Regions from separate parts of the Homo sapiens genome. Here all the other regions are linked to region 1. Evidence: fine-mapped expression QTL. A gene starts in region 1. Each other region holds a variant in brackets. All regions are shown on one strand. Distances are between the middles of the regions. Region 1 holds the start of SERINC2 (serine incorporator 2). Region 2 overlaps LOC124903900 (a long non-coding RNA gene). Region 3 holds the start of LOC124903900 (a long non-coding RNA gene). Region 4 has its middle 20 kb from the start of LINC01226.

Region 1 (5,028 bases):
TGTGCAACCTTAGGAAAGTCAGCTATCTTCTCCGGGCGGGTGGCAGTCTTCTCATCTGTAAACAGATGGTTTGAGCAGTCCTATCTGCTCTCAGCATTGTAGAATGCTGTAACTCAGAGACCAGCACTTGGCTTTGCATTGTCTCCAAATGGAATTCTCCACCCACCTTTCCTTGATGTTAGCAATAATTCCCACAAGGAGCACTCACGATATGCCAGGAACTGTGCCTCATCTCCCAACAGCATTGTGAGAAAGGCCCTGTTACTGTCAACTGCCAGATGGGGTGACCAAGGCACACAGGGCTGGCAGGCTGCCCCTCAACATCTCCACCCCCAGGCCAGCCCAGCAGGGCCTGTGCCTCACCAGGTGCAACCGATGGAAATCAGGTCCACTGTGGAAGCTCTGCCTCCCTCACCAGGAAGCAAACCCTTGTTGGCAGAGACCTGGCCCAAACCTTGAATTCTTTGGGCTGGGAGGGATTTCAGGCACCAGCTTGATTCCTCCTCCTGCACACGCACATGCACACGCACACACACACACGAAAAATGGAGGCCTAATGAGGCGAGAGGCTCTCTTGCCTCTCTGTGCTGTCTATGCTGATCTCATTCTCAGAAAAAGGCTGTAAAGTAAATCTCTAGACCCTCAGCTCTCCCCTACACCCCCTCCTCTCTCTCTCTCTCTCTCTCACACACACACACACACACACACACACACACACAACCCGTCAGGGACAAAGGAAAGCGAGTCCCGAGATTCAGCAGCCGCTGCAGCCCCTTCTCCCTCTCAGGGCCTCTTTGTGTGGGGCCAGAGGGGGAGGGGGCTGCCTGAATGAACCTCAGATTTAATGAGGGGAAGAGGAAAGGAGAGGGGGGCTGGGGAAAGGGAAGGGAGAACGGGCCTCCCAGCCGGGGTCTTGCTGGAGCCCCTCCCCTCTGCGGCTGCAGCTACAGAACAGAGGTTGGCCTCCCCACAGGTCCCGAACCCGCGACCGGGCACTCCCCGCGCACACCCGAACCTCCCTCGATTCCTGCTCTCCCAACCCAGAGTTCCGCCCGGTGGTCCGTGACGACCCGCACCCGCCTCACTCGAGGGCAGCTAAGAAAGTCCGGGGCTCCCTCCGCTCCCATCCCAGTCTCCGCGCTGGGGCCCAGATGATCCGGGGCGAGCTGGGGAAGTGCCTGAGAGGCAGCGCGAGCCAGACTGAGGACGGTAAAGGGACCGCAGAGAGACTGAGGGACGGACGGGCGGACGGGCAGACGGACAGAAGACAGCAGACGGACAAAGACAGTCGGACGAACGACGGACACAGACAGGAACCAGACAAATACGAACGGACAGGCGGAGCCCGAGCGACAGGAACAGGCGGACTGGCAGGCGGCCAGAGGGGTAGGGCAGGGCACTCGCCAGGAGGGACGGGGCCCGGGCGACCTACACAGAGAACCAGGGCGTCCGGGACGGGGACAGAGGCCACCCCGAGGACCGCCCCAAGTGGGGCGACGAGGGCCCACAGAGCTGCCCCGACCCCGGGCTCCAGGCTTAGTCTCTCCAGGTCCCAGGAGGGCGCCCGCCGAGGGCACTCCCCTCCTGCCCGCGGAAACCCGAGCCGGGACCGCAGCTGCCCGGCGCCTGCCGGCCAGGACTGAGCAGGGGGACGGGGGCAGCGGGATCCGGGTGCCGAGTGAAGGTCCAGGAGGGCGAGCAGGCGGGGCACCGGCCCAGAAAGACAAGTTTGCAGGAAGGAAAAAGAAGAAACTACTCGGAGCAGAACAGAAGAAAGTGAGGGCCCGCAGCAGGAACGGGCGGCGCGCGCGGGCGGGCGCCGGGGTCGGGACTCACGCAGCTGAGCAGGGAGCAGGCTCCCAGGCAGGCCCCCATGGCGGCGGCTCCCGGCTTCGGGCGCCCGGCGCCGGGCGCGGGGCGCGGACCTCGGGATCCGGGTGCCGGGCCTGGCCCCTCCCCGGCCCCGGCCCCGCCCCGGCCCCGCCCCACCTACCGAAGCCGCTCGACGCTTTCCGGCGGCGCTCGGGGCCTCCCCAGACTCACCTGGGGCAGGTGCGCCAGGAGGGACCCTAGGGAAGGGGCCGGTCGGGGATTCCCGCGGCCACGCGAGCGGCGCAACCTGACCCAATCGTGGCCCGGGCTCGCATCCTGCTCCAAAGTGAGCGTTCGGAAATCGACCTCGGTTTGAGCCCGTGTGACCCCAGGACACTGTCACCCTTGGGAACAGAAGCCAAGAGGTGGTCACCGCTGACTCCTCAGTGCTTGGCGCAGGGCCTCTGCTCAATACGTAGATGCTGAGGTTGAATGCTGAATGACTGGATAAAGAAACTTCGGCAAGTCACTGCACCTCTATGAGCCTCAGTTTCCCGGTCTGTAAAGTGAGGATACATACCTCACAGGGTGGTTACAACACATGGTAGGTGCTTGACAAATGTAAGCCCCCATCGTCACTGTTTTCTTCTTCCTTTTTAAGAGACAGGGTCTTGCTCTGTCACCCAGGCTGGAGTGCAGTGGTGCAAACATAGCTCACTGCAGCCTCGACCTCCTGGGCTCAAGTGATCCTCCTGCTTCAGGCTCCTGAGTAGCTGGGACTACAGGTGCATGCCACCATGCCCACCTACTGCTTCTTCTAAGACCCCAGCCTCTCACTCTAAACCCATCCTCCCTTCTCTCCATCTGTTCTTCAAACTCCACTGACTCCCAACAGCCTGCTGGGAGCTACACACTCCCTACAGCCACCCCTGCTTGGTGGCTTATCACTCCCTAGGGATGCCCAAACTGGTCCCTAGCTAAGGAGGTCAGAAGGTGGGGAGGGGCGGCCACATTCCTGACAGATGGCTTTCCAGGGGTAGGTGTGAGAGACCCAGAAGTAGGGCTCTGTAATTAGTCTCCCTTCACCCTTAGCCCTGTCCTCAGCCACCTCTGGACAAGATAATGTTAGGGAAAGAAGTCTCTGTGCCTCGAAGCTGGCCCCAGGGCCAAAGAGCTGGTTGACTGCATCCTTGGCTGATTCACTGGGCGCCAGGCTTAGCCATTAATTGCACCAGGACTGTTCCACAAACACACCCTATACTTTTCCTCCTCCGCACTTTTGCCCACACAATGCCCTCCTCTTTTTTTTTTTTTTTTTTTTTTTTTTTGAGACAGGGTCTCACTCTGTCACCCAGGCTGGAACACAGTGGCCCAATCATGGCTCACTGCAGCTTCAACCTCCTGGACCCAAGTGATCCTCCCACCTCAGCCTCCCAAGTAGCTGTGACCACCAGTGTGTACTACCACACCCAGCTAATTTTTTAAAAATTTTGTGTAGAGATGAGGTCTCCTTATGTTGTCCAGGCTAGTCTCGAACTCCTGGGCTTAAGCAATCCTCCTGCCTTGGCCTCCCAAAGTGCTGGTATTACAGATGTGAGGCACTGCACCTGGCAGATGCCCTCCTCTTAAAGGTCCTTCTCCTTATCCCTCTTTCTCCCCTTTGAAGCTTGCTCACATGCCATACCTCTCAGTGAAGAGAGCCACCACCCTCACCCCCAACCCACTACCTGGTTCCATTAGGAATGAACATCCTCCTGATTCCCCCAAGCCTCCAAACAATATGGGCCTCCCTTATGGCCTCACAAACAACCCGAGCACATGCCCAACTTTCCCCCGTGGTACCATTTGAGCCCCACAACAGCCCTGAGAAGTCGATTAATTCCCCACCCACTCGTTTACAGATGAGGAAACCGAGAAACAAAGAAGTAGTGACACGCGAAATGTAAATCAAGCGTCGAATAAACGTTGACTGTGATCACTGTGGTTGTTGTTACTATTGCTGAAGGCCACACAGCTCAGAAGAAACAGAGCTGAAAGGCAACCTGGCCTGGCTTTCACCCTGATGTCCTACTGCTTCCCTTGAAAAAGTAGAGGTGACAATATCTAGTCTTCCTATTTTTCTGTCCAGCAATATTTCAGTCCTTCCCTAACCCGAGGCCTTTAGGGGACTGTGAGCCACCCAAGAACGGTCTGCTCTCTGGCCACCCCCTCTCCTACCCAGAGCACAGTACAGGGCCTGGCACACAGTCAAGCAGTGAATGCTTACTGGATGAATGTCTGACCTTTTACCATAAGTCCACTTTCCTCCTTCTTCTGTGACTGACAGTCTGATCCAAAAACATACCCTACACAGTCATCTTCTGCACGGAAATCCTTTAGACTGAAATGCCACCAAGCAGTCTCAAGTGAGCCCTCCTCACATGCTCCCGTCCCAGGGTCAGCTCCCTTGGACACTTCTGCTCTAAGAGCTGAATTTTTCACCCCCAACCCCTCCCTATCCATGACCTAGAACAGTAGAAAGCACCCAAGACCAAGAGGATCAACCCCTGGGATTCTTGTTCTGCCACAGATGACCATGCCCCATGCCATCCTTGGGGGGCCACTTCACCCCACAAGGGGTGTCCGTCCATCCCCTTCCCGGAAATAGGTAGGGTTATTCTGTTTAACCTCACAGAGCATGTGTGAGCATCTGCAAAGACACTCTCAGAAATAAGCAGTTATCTGCAAGGAACGAGGGATTAAGATGACTGTATGTGTAAAGGGATAGCCACTCTGACTTCAGGCTAAAATTTTCCAGAGCAAGGTAATATGCTGCCACTGTCCTGGCCTCCTGCCTGCCCAAGACCAAGGCCGGCTGGGCTCTCACACGCCCAGCATGGAAGGCATAACTCACTGTGTGGCTGGGTCCGGGTGACTCCTCCTCTCTCAGCCTCATGCTTCTCATCTGTAAAATAAAGATAAGTTTTTTTACCCCAGCTATCTGAGGGGACTACTGAGGAGATGAAGTGAGGACATGGATAAAGAGCTTCATTTCTTGGTGTCCTGGCCAGCCCATCAGCCTTTACTCCCAGATTTGAACCTCCTGCATGGGGCCAGAGTAGCTCTGTCTCTTGCACCCCCAAAAGCACAGTCACAGTCAGCAGCTATGTGATACTGGCAAGTCACCCAACCACTCTGAGCCTCACTGGAGGGTTGGAATTCAGGATTCAGCTTCTC
Region 2 (5,028 bases), 37 kb before region 1:
TAGAACAGAATAGAGAACCCAGAAATAAACCCAAATACTTACAACCAACTGATCTTCAACAAAGCAAACAAAAGCAAAAAGTGAGGAAAGGACCCTCTATTCAACAAATGATGCTGGGATAATTGGCAAGCCACAGGTAGGAGAAAGAAACTGGATCCTTATCTCTCACCTTATACAAAAATCAACTCAAGATAGATCAAGGAGTTAAATCTAAAACCTGAAATTATGAATATTCTAGAAGATAACGTCAGAAAAAATCTTTGTAGACATTGGCTTAGGCAAGGATTTAATGACCAAGAACCCCAAAGCAAATGCTATAAAAACAATGATAAATAGGTTGGACTTAATTAAATGAAAGAGCTTTAGAACAGCAAGAGGAACAGTCAACAGAGTTAACAGACAACCCACAGAGTGAGAGAAAATCTTTACAATCTATACATCTGACAAAGGACTAATACCCAGAATCTACAACAAACTCAAACAAATTAGCAAGAAAAAAGCAAACAATCCCATCAAAAAGTGGGATAAGGACATGAATAGACAATTCTTAAAAGAAGATATGCAAATGGCCAACAAACATATGAAAAAATGCTCAAGAACACTAATGATCAGGGAAATGCAAATCAAAACCACAATGCAATACCACCTTACTTCTGCAAGAATGGCCATAATAAAAAAATAACAGTTGTTGGTGTGGATGCAGTGAAAAGTAAACACTTCTACATTGCTGATGGTAATGGAAACTAGTACAACCACTATAGAAAACAGTGTGGAGATTTCTTAAAGAACTGAAAGTAGAACTACCATTTGATCCAGCAATCCCACAACTGGGTATCTACCCAGAGGAAAAGAAATCATTCTATGAAACAGATAACTTGCACACGTATGTTTATAGCAGCACAGTTGCAAAAATGTGGAACCTACCCAAATGCCCACCAATCAATGAGTGGATAAAGAAACTGTGGTATATATATATGACGGAATACTACTCAGCCATATAGGAATGAATTAATGGCATTCACAGCAACCTGGATGGGATTGGAGACTATTATTCTAAGTGAAGTAACTCAGGAACGGAAAACCAAACATCGTGTGTTCTCACTCATAAGTGGGAGCTAAGCTGTGAGGATGCAAAGGCAGAAGAATGACACAAGGACTTTGGGGACTCAGTGGGAAAGTGTAGGAAGTGGGTGAGGGATAAAAGACTACAAATTAAATTCAGCGTATACTGCTCAGGTTACGTATGGGTGCACCAAAATCTCACAAATCACCACGAAAGAACTTGCTCATGTAACCAAATACTACCTGCTCCCCAAAAACCTATGGAAATGAAAAACTAAAAGAAAAAAAAAAGAAATACTTGTCAAAAAAATGAATGAGTGAATGAATGAACATGTATAATAGACACATTAGCTCTCCTGGGTAGCTTCCTCTGTAAGGAGGAACTGAAGCCTGATAAAACACTGGCATTTTGTAATAATGAATATTCTTTAAAGCCTCAGTTCCCTTGCCTATAAAAGAGAAAATTGTATAGTACGTACTTAACAGAATTATGTGAGGATTTAATGAGACATGTCACATAAAGAGCTTATCACAGTGTCTGAAACTTAGAAGTCACTCAACTAGTGGTAGTGATTATTATGAAGAATCATATGTGGTATGTGGTGTTTGTTATAAGTCTATAGGTTTAGTCATAAAGTCTTGCATTTGAAATTAAGAAGAGGAAAAATAAAGCCAACATCAGAGATGTCAGAACAGGGAGATGACAAGAAATCAGGCTCTTGGTGACACTGTCAAACAGCTTAATCAAGTCTCATCTGATGCCAGACCTACCTCTGACCTTCTTAGTCACACGAATCAATAAATTTTCTTTACTTTTTAAAGCACTTTGAATTGGGCTTTCTGTTGGCTATACTTCAAAGCGTCCTAAGTGATACACAAGGTCATGAGCCAAAACACATGTTTAATCAATCCATACAACAAACATTTAATCAGCACCTACACTATACCAAGTCATTAGACAGACTCAAAGGTTAATAGAGGCCAGATGCAGTAGCTCGTGCCTGTAATCCCAGCACTTTGGGAGGCCAAGGTGGGTAGATCACTTGAGGTCAAGAGTTAGAGACCAGCCTGGCCAACATGAAAATACAAAAATTAGCCAGGTGCCGTGGTGCACACCTGTAGTCCCAGCTACTCAGGAGGCTGAGGCAGGAGAATTGCTCCAACCTGGGAAGTTGAGGTTGCAGTGAGCCAAGATGCCAAGATCATGCCACTGCACTCCAGCCTGGTGACACAGCGAGACTCTGTCTTAAAAAAAAAAAAAA[G/AG]AAGGTTAATAGAACTCTGCCCTCCTGGAACCCACTCCATCCAGTAAGAAAGACAGAAAAGAACATAATATCACCATACTTTGTGTGGTTTGATGTGATGTGATGGATACATTGGGTCAGCACCTCCTTCTAGCATGCTATGCCAGGGTCCCTGGCAGCCAGGACTCTGACAATTAAGACTCAGCCAATCAGATTCAGTCACACAAGATGTAGAAAATGGAAGGAAGGTGAAGGCCATCTTCCTGTTGTTTTTGCCATTTCTGCTAACAACACAGTTGTGAAGACATCTGGTTTTTCTGTCGTACAGTTGGTAAAGATGTGGTTTTCCTAGCTTAGTGGACATCAAGAATAAGACATGAACACGCATTTATTCTGCTGCCAAGGACTGTGGCAGGCGTGGTGTGATGGTGTGGCACATTAGTAGCAGCCTCCTGATAATGGCGGCTCCCTGGTGGTAGCTGTGATGCATTCTGGAGCCGGTGGCTTTCTGATTACAGCAGTTTTCTTGATGACCTAGTCCCGGGAGTTATTCCTGAAACTTCAACTCAAAGTCTGTTTCTTCAGCCTTTGGTGAAGTCTTTATTTTTTTAAACCAGTTTGAATAGGGCTTTCTGTTGGCTATAGTTCAAAGCATCCTAAATGATACACAAAGCCATGAGCCAAAAACACATGTTTAATTATTTAACACCCTAATAAACTCCTTTCTACCTAAACCAGCTAATGTGGATCATGTTGTATGACACCACCATTTAACCTTCCAAAGCCACACCATTGGATAAACTGTTGACATTCCCTTTCACCAGCTTACCTCCACTCATTTCCAATCCATCACCAAGCCCTGTTGATTTCACCTCCATCCTCTTCCTCCACGACCACTACCCTCATCCAGGCCACCATCATCTCCTCTTGGTTTGCCAATATTCTTCTACACATTCCCCTGGATCCACTCCGCCACCAATCCATCGTCCACAATGCATCCAGAGTGAGCATTTCTGAAGGAAAATCTGAGGCTCATTTAAAATCCTCCAATAACCAGAACAGAGAGCCCAGACACAGTAATACATATACAACTACCTGATTGATGACAGTTCTCCTGTGGGAGGGAAGGGATTGTCTTTTCCGTAAGTAGCGCTGGGTCGATATGGAAAAACATGGACTTTGATTTCTACTTCACACTATAACAAGAAGTAATGAGATACATCATAATCATATCCCTAAACGTAAAAACAAAACAATAAAGATTCCAGAAGAAAAAATAAAATAATATCCGACCTTGGAGGGGGCAAAATTTTCTTAATAAAGGCAAAATAAGCGTCATAAAAGAAAAGATTTAGTCCAGGTGCGGTGGCTCACGCCTGTAATCCCAGTGCTTTGGGAGGCCAAGGCGGGCAGATCACCTGCGGTCAGGAGTTCAAGATCAGTCTGGCCAACATGGTGAAACCCCGACTCTAGTAAAAATATAAAATTTAGCTGGGTGTGGTGGCACGTGCCTGTAATCTCAGCTACTTGGGAGGCTGAGGCAAGAGAATTGCTTGAACCTGGGAGGCAGAGGTTTCAGTGAGCCAAGATCGTGCCATTGCACTCCAGCCTGGGCAACAAGAGTGAAACTCCATCTCAAAAATAATAATAATAATAATAAATAATTTTAAAAACTAAAGAAAATGTTAAAAATTAGACTTCTTTGAAATTAAGAATCACTGTTCATCAGAAGACAACATTAAGAGGGTGAAAAGATAAGACAGAGATTATGAGAAGATATTTGCAAAATATATATCCACCAAGGACTCACTTCCCATGTATCTGCTACAAATCAGCAGGGAAAAAACCTCCCAATTTAAAAATGGGCTAAAGAGTTAAATAGGCACTTTACACACAGCAAAAAAGGATATTCAGTAGTCCAATAAGCATATGAAACAGTGTCCAACGTCAGTGGTCATGAAGGAGATGCAGATTAAAATCACAAGATACTTCTATACCCCTGCTTTGGACCTCGGCTCACCCCTAACGGAAGTGCGTGACATTGGCTATCTTTCTATCATGGCCCTTGACACATTTACAACGTACACGTTTGTGTGGCTACTGGATTTACGTCCACCTCCTCCACCAGATCTCAGCCCCCTAATGGCAAGTGTGACATCTGCTGCTGATCCTTGTGTAAACAAGGCCTGCTATAGAATAGGTGTGTGACGCACCGCTAGTGGATGAATGAATGAAGGAATGAAAAAGGCACTATCATTGCCATTTTACAGATCAGGAAACTGAGTCTCCTTTGTTTGAGAAATTTGTCCAAAGTCCCATTACTCGCCTGTGGTTACTATTGCACTTCAGGGTTCAGATCCTACTAGGGAGTAGATGAGTTGTCCTGCCTTGGTTACTGAAAGTTCTAAAGACTCTCAGTGGGGGTGGCATCTTATTCAGATGTTCCTAGGTGATCTGAACAGAAAAGCCTTGTAAGTATAGTAAGATGAGGGCGTGGCTCAGGCTGATCTGTCCTAGGCACAAGCCAAGTTAAGATTTTGTTGTTGTGGTCCAATTCAGGAAGAGACCTGCCTAGTGGACATTCTGGTTTTCTGCTCAGGGGAGAGTCAGGGTGAAGGAGGTCACAGTGTCCTCCCTTGCACCTCTCTGAGCAGCCACTGGCATGGTGTAGCCTGATTTCCGTGTGAGACATCCACACATTCACAAACACAATTTTAGATACCAC
Region 3 (5,028 bases), 57 kb before region 1:
ATAGGAGGTATTACAACCAACACCACAGAAATACAAAAACTCATTCAAGGCTACTATGAACACCTTTACACACATAAACTAGAAAACCTAGCAGAGATGCATAAATTCCTGGAAAGATACAACCCTCCTGGCTTAAATCAGGAAGAACTAGATATTCTTGTTAAAGATCGTGAACTCCAAGTTTCTTTTCAAAGAATCACTATGTCAGTATGTTCAGCTCTCTTTATTCTCCATTTTAAAGTCTAACTTCCTGGTTCTATTGCCCCGCTTGCCTCTAGTTTCAGTAAACAAGTTTCCTGCCAGTTCTAATCAGTAGTTCACATCTGTTCCCCTGGTCACCTGCTTTGTCCTGAGTCACCCCTGGTCACCTGCTCCATCTTGAGTCACCCCTGTCACCTGCTCTGACCTGAATCATCCTGAGTCAACTGTTCTGTAACCACCCCTCCCGCCAAACTTCTCACCCTGTCACTCCAGCTTGTACCCCTGCTCTCTTTAAAATAGCCAATCGGAATTAGCTTACACTGTGCGGTCCAATCCTAGCCAATAGGGGAATGACACAACAGCAGGGACTACCTGCACCAGGAATACGAACCGCTTCCCTCCCCTTGTTCAGGTGTGCTTTCGCCATTACTCCAACCACGAGTCGCACCCTTCTATAGAAGTAAAAATTACCTGGCTGAGAAAATTAAATTTATGTTCAAGTGCTATTTCTCTGCAGCACCAAGGAACAGGCATTTGTTTCTAACAATCTCGTGGCCCATATGGGGAGCTATTCTCCTCTAGGGGTGGCCTCTATTCCTCTCTCACGCCCCACTGCCTTGTTGCGGTGGCCTCAAGAGTCAGGAATCGAGACTCACCTGGTGTGACAAATAAACCTGGACTCAGCAATGTCGAAAGAAACCAGCCGGCGACCCAGGGGAAAGGATCCTCACACACCACAGTGACCAGGCAACTCTGTGCACAGACCGAGGAAGGAAACGCCTGGGAGCCAGCAAAGTATTTCCTTGGTGGTTGGGACAGACCAAGGTAAGAGAAGCCACAGGGGGTGGTGGTATTCCTTGATCAGGACATATCAAGGTAAGAAAAGACACGGAGGAGGTGGGGCGGTGAAGTATTCCCTGGTTGGGGTATCTTGAGGGTTAAAAATAGGCAAGACATTTCTAGCAAGGGGAATTGAGCCTCACACTAAAAATGGGAAATACCCCAAGTAAGGTAAGGGATAAAAAGGATACACTAGCAATGATAATATTCCCCCTAATAATCCGCTCAGCCTAATGATAAAATATTAGAAGGGTAATGAAAGGACCAAAAACAAGAAAAAGCAGCTGCTGTCCCAGACCCTTCTCCTATCCCTGTTGTCCCTCTCCTTATAATTCTGCCTCTTGGGAATGTTCCCAAGAGCCCACTCACGACCAGCCTGAGTACCCTTCCCTAAAAGGACTTCACACGAGATAGAGCAATGTAAAAAGGATATTCAGAACTTCCCTTTCCCCTCTTCTCAGGGGAAGAAAGAGGCATGATCCATAGGGCTGCAATGGGAGCCTAGGAACCATGAACACCCCGCCCCCGGCTTCCGGCCAAAACGTTCCTACAGCGGATCAAAAATTTCCCACCCAAGACCCCTGGTGGGACAATAACAATGCAGCCAACCAAGAAAATATGCAAGACCTTAAGGAATTGATAATAAAGGGGATTAAAGAATCAGTACCCCGAACCCAGAATCTTACCCAAACATTTGATATACAGCAAGGGAAAGATTAAGGGCCTATAGAATTTTTAGACAGATTAAAGGAATAAATGAGAAAATATACTGGTCCAGGTCTCGAGGATCCCCTTGGACAGGGAATGTTAAAACTTCATTTTGTCACTAACAGTTGGCCAGATATTAACAAGAAATTACAAAAGATAGGGAACTAGAAAGATAAACCTATAGAAGAGCTTCTAAGAGAAGCCCAAAAAGTATATGTAGGAAGAGATGAAGAAAAACAAAAGCAGAGGGCAAAAATTCTGCTGTCCACCATACAACAAAGTACCCAGGGGGCAAGAACCTATAAAGAACCTAGACCCCCACTCTCCAGGCAACATAAAGGGTACAAAAGAGTAAAGCCAGGAGACTCAAAGGTAGAGAAAAAAATCTTAGAGGCGAGAGAAAGACTGACAGAGGGGACAGAGGAAGTCAGAGAGAGAGAGAGGGAAAGAGACAGAGGAAGTCAGAGAGAGAGGGAAAGAGACAGAGGAATTCAGAGAGAGAGAGAGAGAGATAGGGAGAGGAAAAGGGAAAGAGGACAAAACAAATGCTTCAAATTAAAAATAGGTCACTTCAAAAAAGAATGTCCCAAGTGGGAAAAAGAATAAAGTCATATGTAAAAGCAAATCAGCTAATATTAACTTTCTGCTAATTCTGGAAGCAGGGACAAATCTATAAGGAAGAGATTTAATGCTAAAATTAGGCTTAGGCCTCGAAATCAATCATAGAAAATTCCTCCTTTCCCTAAACTTACCACCACAGCAAAAGATGGGAAGCAAGGAAAGTTACAGATTCCTCCAATTCATGTTAAATTAAAAAAAAAAACTATTAAAAACACCTGGGGAAGTAGTA[A/C]AGAGAAAGCAATGTACCCTATTTCTTTGAAAACTAGGGTAAATTTAAGACCTATAATTGATAATTGAAGGTCGTCTTGGTGTTGGGCTTCTTAAACCCTGTGTGTCTCCCTATAACACTCCAATATTGCCTGTAAAGAAGCCAGATGGGGGCCAGGCGCAGTGGCTCACACCTGTAATCCCAGCACTTTTGGAGGCCAAGGCACGTGGATTACAAGGTCAGGAGATTGAGACCATCCTGGCTAACACAGTGAAACCCCGTCTCTACTAAAAATACAAAAAACGAGCTGGGCGTGGTGGCAGGTGCCTGTGGTCCCAGCTACTCGGGAGGCTGAGGCAGGAGAATGGTGTGAACCTGGGAAGCGGAGCTTGCAGTGAGCTGAGATTGCGCCACTGCACTCCAGCCTGGGTGATAGAGTGAGACTCTGTATCAAAAAAAAAGAAGCCAGACGTGTCATACCAGTTAGTGCAAGACCTTGGAGCTATTAATCAAATAATCCAAACTACCCACCCTATTGTTCCCAATCCTTATACTATTACAGTCACCAGTGGTTTACAGTAATAGATTTAAAAGATGCTTTCTGGGCTTGTCCATTAGCAGAGACAGCTGGGACCTATTTGCCTTTGAATAAGAAGACCCTCACTCTGGTTGAAAATAGCAATACTGATAGTCTTACCCCAAGGGTTTACGGAGTCTCCAAATTTATTTAGTCAAATATTAGAACAAGTCACTTAATTAGCAAAGATAAACAGAAAATTGAGCTTGAACGGATTGAAGGCATAATATCCTTCCCTCTGCTGGAGACTAAACAAGAACTTAAAACATTTTAGGATTAGTTGGGTACTGTCATCTATGGATAGATTCTTATGCCCTAAAAACAAAACCCTATACAGAAAGCTCATGCAAGATGGGCCAAACCCTCTCATTTGGCAATTACCAGAAATCCAACAGGTGGAAAGGTTAAAACATCTATTAGTGGCCGGGCACGGTGGCTCATGCCTGTAATCCCAGCACTTTGGGAGGCCGAGGCGGGTGGATCATGAGGTCAGGAGATTGAGATCATCCTGTCTAACACGATGAAACCCCGTCTCTACCAAAAATACAAAAAATTAGCCATGCGTGGTGGCGGGCACCTGTAGTCCCAGCTACTCAGGAGGCTGAGGCAGGAGAATGGTGTGAACCCGGGAGGCAGAGCTTGCAGTGAACCAAGATCACGCCACTGCACTCCAGCCTGCGCGACAGAGCAAGACTCTGTCTCAAAAACAAAACAAAGCAAAAACATCTATTAGTAACTGCCCCATCCTAGCTTTACCCTCCTTAAGCAGCCATTCCATCTTTTTGTCAGTGTAAACAAGGGCATAGCCTTAGAAATACCCAAAAGCACAGAGGCCACTGACAACCTGTACCCTTCCTATGAAAAATCCTTAACCCAGTAAACTGTGGATGGCCCAAATGCATTCAGTCTGTAGCAGCAACTGCTTTGCTAAGAGAATAAAGTAGAAAACTAACTTTTAGAGGAAACCTCATTGTGAGCACACCTCACCAGGTCAGAACTATGCTAAGTCAAAAAGCAAAAATGTAGCTTACTGACTCAAGAATCTTAAAGTATGAGGCTATTCTGTAAGAAAAAGATGATTTAACATTCACCACTGATAATTTGCTTAACCCAGCAGGTTTCCTAACAGGGGATCTAAATCTTAATTAATTACCATACAAAGGTCTGACCAGACCTAGGAGAAACTCCCTTCAGGACAGGACGACACTTATTTATAGATGGTTCCTCCTGGGTAATTGAGGGAAAAAGACACAATGGGTATTCGGTAATTAACAGAGAAACTCTCATAGAAATAGAGCTAGGAAAATTGCCTAATAATTGGTCTGCTCCAATGTGTGAGCTGTTTGCACTCAGCCAAGCCTTAAAGTACTTACAGAACCAGGAAGGACCATCTATACTGATTCTAAGTATGCCTTTGGAGTGACTCATACATTTGGAAACAGCTGGACTGAACGAGGTCTTATTAATAGCAAAGGTGAAGACCTGGTCCACAAGGAATTAATCACCCAAGTATTAAATAACCTTAAGTTGTCAAAAGAAATAGCTGTTGTCCATGTCCCTGGACACCAGAAAAGCCTTTCTTTAATTAAAATCCCAAATTTACAAGATTTTCCACAAAAGTAAAGTTTGCTGTTAGAAGTAAATGCTTATTTCTCAGTGCCGCAAGGAAAACCAGCATTCAGACAAAAAAAAATTCTCAGCAAGGCAATTTTACTTTCTCCAGAAAGGATGCTACTCATCAGCAATCTCGCCATGAAAGCACACTGAATAAAGAAAGGCAGGAATATTTATCCCTTATTGGGTCCTTACTGCTGTGTCCTATCTCCATTGGTTGGAGCTGGACCTCACAGTCTAAGCTAAACCTGATTGGCTA
Region 4 (5,028 bases), 85 kb before region 1:
GAAGTACTTCCTAGCTGTCCCCTCTAAACCTCGGCCACCCTGGACTGCTCAGCCCAAATCTCCCAGCCAGAAAAATGTACCTTCCTAGGTCTGCCCGCAGGACAGGTGCACAGAGAGGAGTCCGACCCCTGTTATAAGCGAATGCCGGCAATGATGAGAAGTGGAGGGAACCTAGAAACTTCCCATCCACTCTTTCCGCTCTGCAGATGGAAAGCCGTGGGGCCCAGAGATCTCCAGATCATTCAGCAAACCAGGAGTGAAACTGGGAGTAGGACCAAGGCCTCAGACTCCAACAGGGAGCTGGTTCCACCGCCTCAGAGACCAGTTGCTGTCTCCTGGGGTCGTGTCTCTTGCCCTCCACTGCAGATTTAAGCATCTCACTGGAAGTGTCTTCGAATGGAAGTGGGAGCCTGTGTGCGTCACTCAGGGTCTAGTCATCTCCCCACCCTCTCCCCTCCCTCCCTCTCCACGTGGACTGCTGAGGTCTCACCTGAGCTCTTCTGGCCCTCCCAGGCTGAAGCCACCACCTTGGGGCAGCCCCACTGCAGGGATCAGCTGTAATCTCCTGCAGGCTTACACCCCACCTCTGTGCTGTGACCCAGAACCTCCTCTGCCTGTTCCAGTGAAGGACAATCAACAGGGAGTGGGCTGCTCTCCAGGTTTTTGTCTGCCAGCCATGCCCAGGGCAGGAGGTGGGGAGGAGGGCAGAGATGACAGGGCTGTGAACCCCAAATATCTGAGACAGATCTCAGTCAATGTAGAAAGTTTATTTTGTCAAGCTTAAGGATGCACCCATCACACAGCCTCAGGAGGTCCTGACATGTGCCTAAGGTGGTCGGGGTACAGCTTGCTTTGATTCATAGGGAGCCAGGAGACATCAATCAATATGTGTAAGATGTACATTGGTTCAGTCTGGCAATGTGGGACAGCTTGAAGGCGGCAGGGGTGCTTCCAGGTCATAAGAGACAAAAGGTTGATAAGAGATGAAAGATTGCATTGAGTCCTTGATCAGCCTTCCACTGAATACACAATTTAATCTGACTCAGTGAATCTGCATTTTTACGTAAACAATAGGGCAGAGGAAACAATCAGATATGCATTTGTCTCAGGTGAGCAGAAGGATGACTTTCTGTCTGCACCTCTGAAGATCAGCTATTAGTTTACATTGCCAGGGTGAAATTCAACAGAACTGTTTTAGGATAAAGACCTTGAGGCCCACAACGAATTTTCTTGTGGGCAGTTTGTGAGGGAGGTATGTAGCTATCTTATTTAGGAATAAAATGGGAGGTGGGTTTGCCTGACATAGTTCCCAGCCTGATTTTTCCCTTGGCTTAGTGATTTGGGGATCCCGAGGCTTTATTTTCCTTTCAAAGGGCCCAAGTCTTCTTCTGCCTGGGGCAGCAGAGATAGGGGTCTTTCCCCAGAAACGAACCTGTTCTGAGACCTTGGACCAGCTGTTCTTCCTTTCTCCCGGCCTGCCTCTCGCTCACTGGCCCTCTATGGCCCTTTCTCCTTGGTATAGCAGAGGGCTTAATCCCAAGGGCTCGACATCAGCCTTGTTTACCACTTACCAAGCCTGGTGTGCCACTCGCAATGAATTTGCGACAGGCAAGTTAGTTGACTGCTCTGAACCTCAGTTTTTTCATCTGGAAAATGGGGCCTTAAGGCCAGTTATGAAGATTAAGATATAAAAAGAAAATATATACAAACTGCCTCACTCTCACCGCTGCTGTTTGTGTCTGTGTTTCTATCCATAGGAACTTTCCCTGCCAGATTGTATTGGTCCCTCTGCTTAAAACAGGGACCAAATCTGCATTGCTGGGTCCCCAGTGCCTAGGTTAAGACTTGGGCCGGGGCGTGGTGACTCATGCCTGTAATCTCAACACTTCGGGAGGCCAAGGTGGGTGGATAGATTGAGCCCAGTAGTTGGAGACCAGCCTGGGCAACATGGCAAAACCCTGTCTCTACAAAAAAATACAAAAATTAGCTGGCTGTGGTGGCACACGCCTGTGGTCCCAGCTACTTGGGAGACTGAGCAGGAGGATGGCTTGAGCCCAGGAGGTTGGGGCTGCAGTGAGCTGTGATCATGCCACTTCACTCCAGCACTCCAGCCTGGGCAATAGATACCATGTCTCAAAAAAAAAAAAAAAAAAAGCCTTGGCACAGAATTCAGTAAATATTTGTAGGATAAATTAATAAATGGATGTCACAGCTAACATATGAGATCTGGGATTTAGATCAACTCCTATCTGACTTCACACCCTGTAGGTATCCTGAACAGAAACATCAATGGGGCAGAATTGAGGGCCCAGAAGCAGAGCTGATAGCAAAAACTGGAACATATCACCAATCACCAAAGAAGGTGAAGGGGACAGAGAAGTGGTGCTGGGACAATAGGTAAACAGTTTGGAAAGTAAAGTCTGTTTGGAACCTCACTTCTCAATAGAATAAAAGTGAAATGGTTTAAAAAGTTAAATAAATAAA[T/C]ATATATATGATCATATGATTCCATTTATATAAAATATCCAGAATATACAAGTCCACAGAGACAGAGAGTAGATTTGTGGTTGCCTATGACTGGGGAAAGGGGAGAGAGGAATGGGGAGGGCCTGCTAGTGGGGACAGGGTTTCCTTCTGCGGTGGTGAAAATATTCTGCAATTAGATAGAGATGATGGCTGCTCGACTTGGCAAACATGCTAAAAACCACTGAATTGTATGCTTTGAGAGGTCAAATTTTATGGTATATGAATCATATCTCAACAAAGTTGTTTAAAAAAACAGATTGTGTGCTCGCTTCGGCAGCACATACACTAAAATTGGAACGATACAGAGAAGATTATCATGGCCCCTGCACAGGGATGACACGCAAATTCGTGAAGCGTTCCATATTTTTAATGATCAAGTGGGCTTCATCCCTCGGATGCAAGGCTGGTTCAACATATGCAAATCAATAAAAGTAATCCAGCATATAAACAGAACCAAAGACAAAAACCACATGATTATCTCAATAGATGCAGAAAAGGCCTTTGACAAAATTCAACAGCCTTTCATGCTAAAAACTCTCAATAAATTAGGTATTGATGGGACATATCTCAAAATAATAAGAGCTATTTATGACAAACCCACAGCCAATATCATACTGAATGGGCAAAAACTGGAAGCACTCCCTTTGAAAACTGGCACAAGACAGGGACGCCCTCTCTCACCACTCTTATTCAACATAGTGTTGGAAGTTCTGGCCAGGGCAATCGGGCAGGAGGAAGAAATAAAGGGTATTCATTAGGAAAAGAGGGAGTCAAATTGTCCCTGTTTGCACATGACATGATTGTATATTTAGAAAACTCCATCGTCTCAGCCCAAAATCTCCTTAAGCTGATAAGCAACTTCAGCAAAGTCTCAGGATACAAAATCAATGTGCAAAAATCACAAGCATTCTTATACACCAATAACAGACAAACAGAGAGCCAAATCATGAGTGAACTCCCATTTACAATTGCTTCAAAGAGAATAAAATACCTTGGAATCCAACTTACAAGGGATGTGAAGGACCTCTTCAAGGAGAACTACAAACAACTGCTCAATGAAATAAAAGAGGATACAAACAAATGGAAGAACATTCCATGTTCATGGATAGGAAAAATCAATATCGTGAAAATGGCCATACTGCCCAAGGTAATTTATAGATTCAATGCCATCCCCATCAAGCTACCAATGACTTTCTTCACAGAATTGGAAAAAACTACTTTAAAGTTCACATGGAACCAAAAAAGAGCCTGCATTGCCAAGACAATCCTAAGCCAAAAGAACAAAGCTGGAGGCATCACGCTACCTGACTTCAAACTATACTACAAGGCTACAGTAACCAAAATAGCATGGTACTGGTACCAAAACAGAGATATAGACCAATGGAACAGAACAGAGTCCTCAGAAATAATACCACACATCTACAACCATCTGATCTTTGACAAACCTGACAAAAACAAGAAATGGGGAAAGGATTTCCTATTTAATAAATGGTGCTGGGAAAACTGGCTAGCCATATGTAGAAAGCTGAAACTGGATCCCTTCCTTACACCTTATACTAAAATTAATTCAAGATGGATTAAAGACTTAAATGTTAGACCTAAAACCATAAAAACCCTAGAAGAAAACCTAGGCAATACCATTCAGGACATAGGCATGGGCAAGGACTTCATGTCTAAAACACCAAAAGCAATGGCAACAAAAGCCAAAATTGACAAATGGGATCTAATTAAACTAAAGAGCTTCTACACAGCAAAAGAAACTACCATCAGAATGAACAGGCAACCTACAGAATGGGAGAAAATTTTTGCAATCTACTCGTCTGAAAAAGGGCTAATATCCAGAATCTACAAAGAACTCGAACAAATTTACAAGAAAAAAACAAACAACCCCATCAACAAGTGGGCAAAGGATATGAACAGATACTTCTCAAAAGAAGACATTTATGCAGGCAACAGACACATGAAAAAATGCTCATCATCACTGGCCATCAGAGAAATGCAAATCAAAACCACAATGAGATACCATCTCACACCAGTTAGAATGGTGATCATTAAAAAGTCAGGAAACAACAGGTGCTGGAGAGGATGTGGAGAAATAGGAACACTTTTACACTGTTGGGGGGACTGTAAACTAGTTCAACCATTGTAGAAGACAGTGTGGCAATTCCTCAAGGATCTAGAACTAGAAATATGGTTTGACCCAGCCATCCCATTACTGGGTATATACCCAAAGTATTATAAATCATGCTGCTATAAAGACACATGCACACGTATGTTTATTGTGGCACTATTCACAACAGCAAAGACTTGGAACCAACCTAAATGTCCATCAATGATAGACTGGATTAAGAAAATGTGGCACATATACACCATGGAATACTATGCAGCCATAAAAAAGGATGAGTTCATGTCCTTTGTAGGGACATGGATGAAGCTGGAAACCATCATTCTCAGCAAACTATTGCAAAGACGAAAAACCAAGCACCGCATGTTCTCACTCATAGG

Evidence for each region. PIP is the estimated chance that this variant, and not a neighbour inherited with it, causes the effect. A credible set is the group of variants that fine-mapping cannot tell apart.
Region 2: its variant is the best candidate, but not a certain one, in a credible set for the expression of SERINC2 in whole blood (INTERVAL, PIP 0.87).
Region 3: its variant is fine-mapped to the expression of SERINC2 in whole blood (INTERVAL, PIP 0.93).
Region 4: its variant is the best candidate, but not a certain one, in a credible set for the expression of SERINC2 in whole blood (INTERVAL, PIP 0.70).

Annotation. Positions count from the first base shown.
Region 1 is chr1:31,410,113-31,415,140 of GRCh38, reverse strand. SERINC2 (serine incorporator 2) reads right to left here and starts at 1,928. Exons shown (of 10, transcript NM_178865.5): 1 at 1,837-1,928. The coding sequence starts at 1,875. RefSeq lists enhancers at 1-409, 1,680-2,180 and silencers at 1,904-1,963, 2,044-2,113.
Region 2 is chr1:31,446,832-31,451,859 of GRCh38, reverse strand. All of the region lies in intron 1 of LOC124903900 (a long non-coding RNA gene), which reads left to right. LOC105378625 (a long non-coding RNA gene) reads right to left here. Exons shown (of 4, transcript XR_007065578.1): 1 at 3,399-5,028; 2 at 3,133-3,316; 3 at 2,404-2,959; 4 at 1,211-2,307. Among named protein-coding and RNA genes, the nearest start is that of SERINC2, 36 kb to the right of the region's middle. The variant G/AG (reference allele first, on the strand shown) is at 2,325.
Region 3 is chr1:31,467,064-31,472,091 of GRCh38, reverse strand. It overlaps LOC124903900 (a long non-coding RNA gene), which reads left to right and starts at 616. Exons shown (of 2, transcript XR_007065585.1): 1 at 616-1,026. It overlaps LOC105379772 (a long non-coding RNA gene), which reads right to left and starts at 974. Exons shown (of 3, transcript XR_001737618.2): 1 at 858-974. RefSeq lists an enhancer at 131-1,330. The variant A/C (reference allele first, on the strand shown) is at 2,600.
Region 4 is chr1:31,495,440-31,500,467 of GRCh38, reverse strand. It overlaps the pseudogene RNU6-40P and the pseudogene LDC1P. Among named protein-coding and RNA genes, the nearest start is that of LINC01226, 20 kb to the left of the region's middle. The variant T/C (reference allele first, on the strand shown) is at 2,485.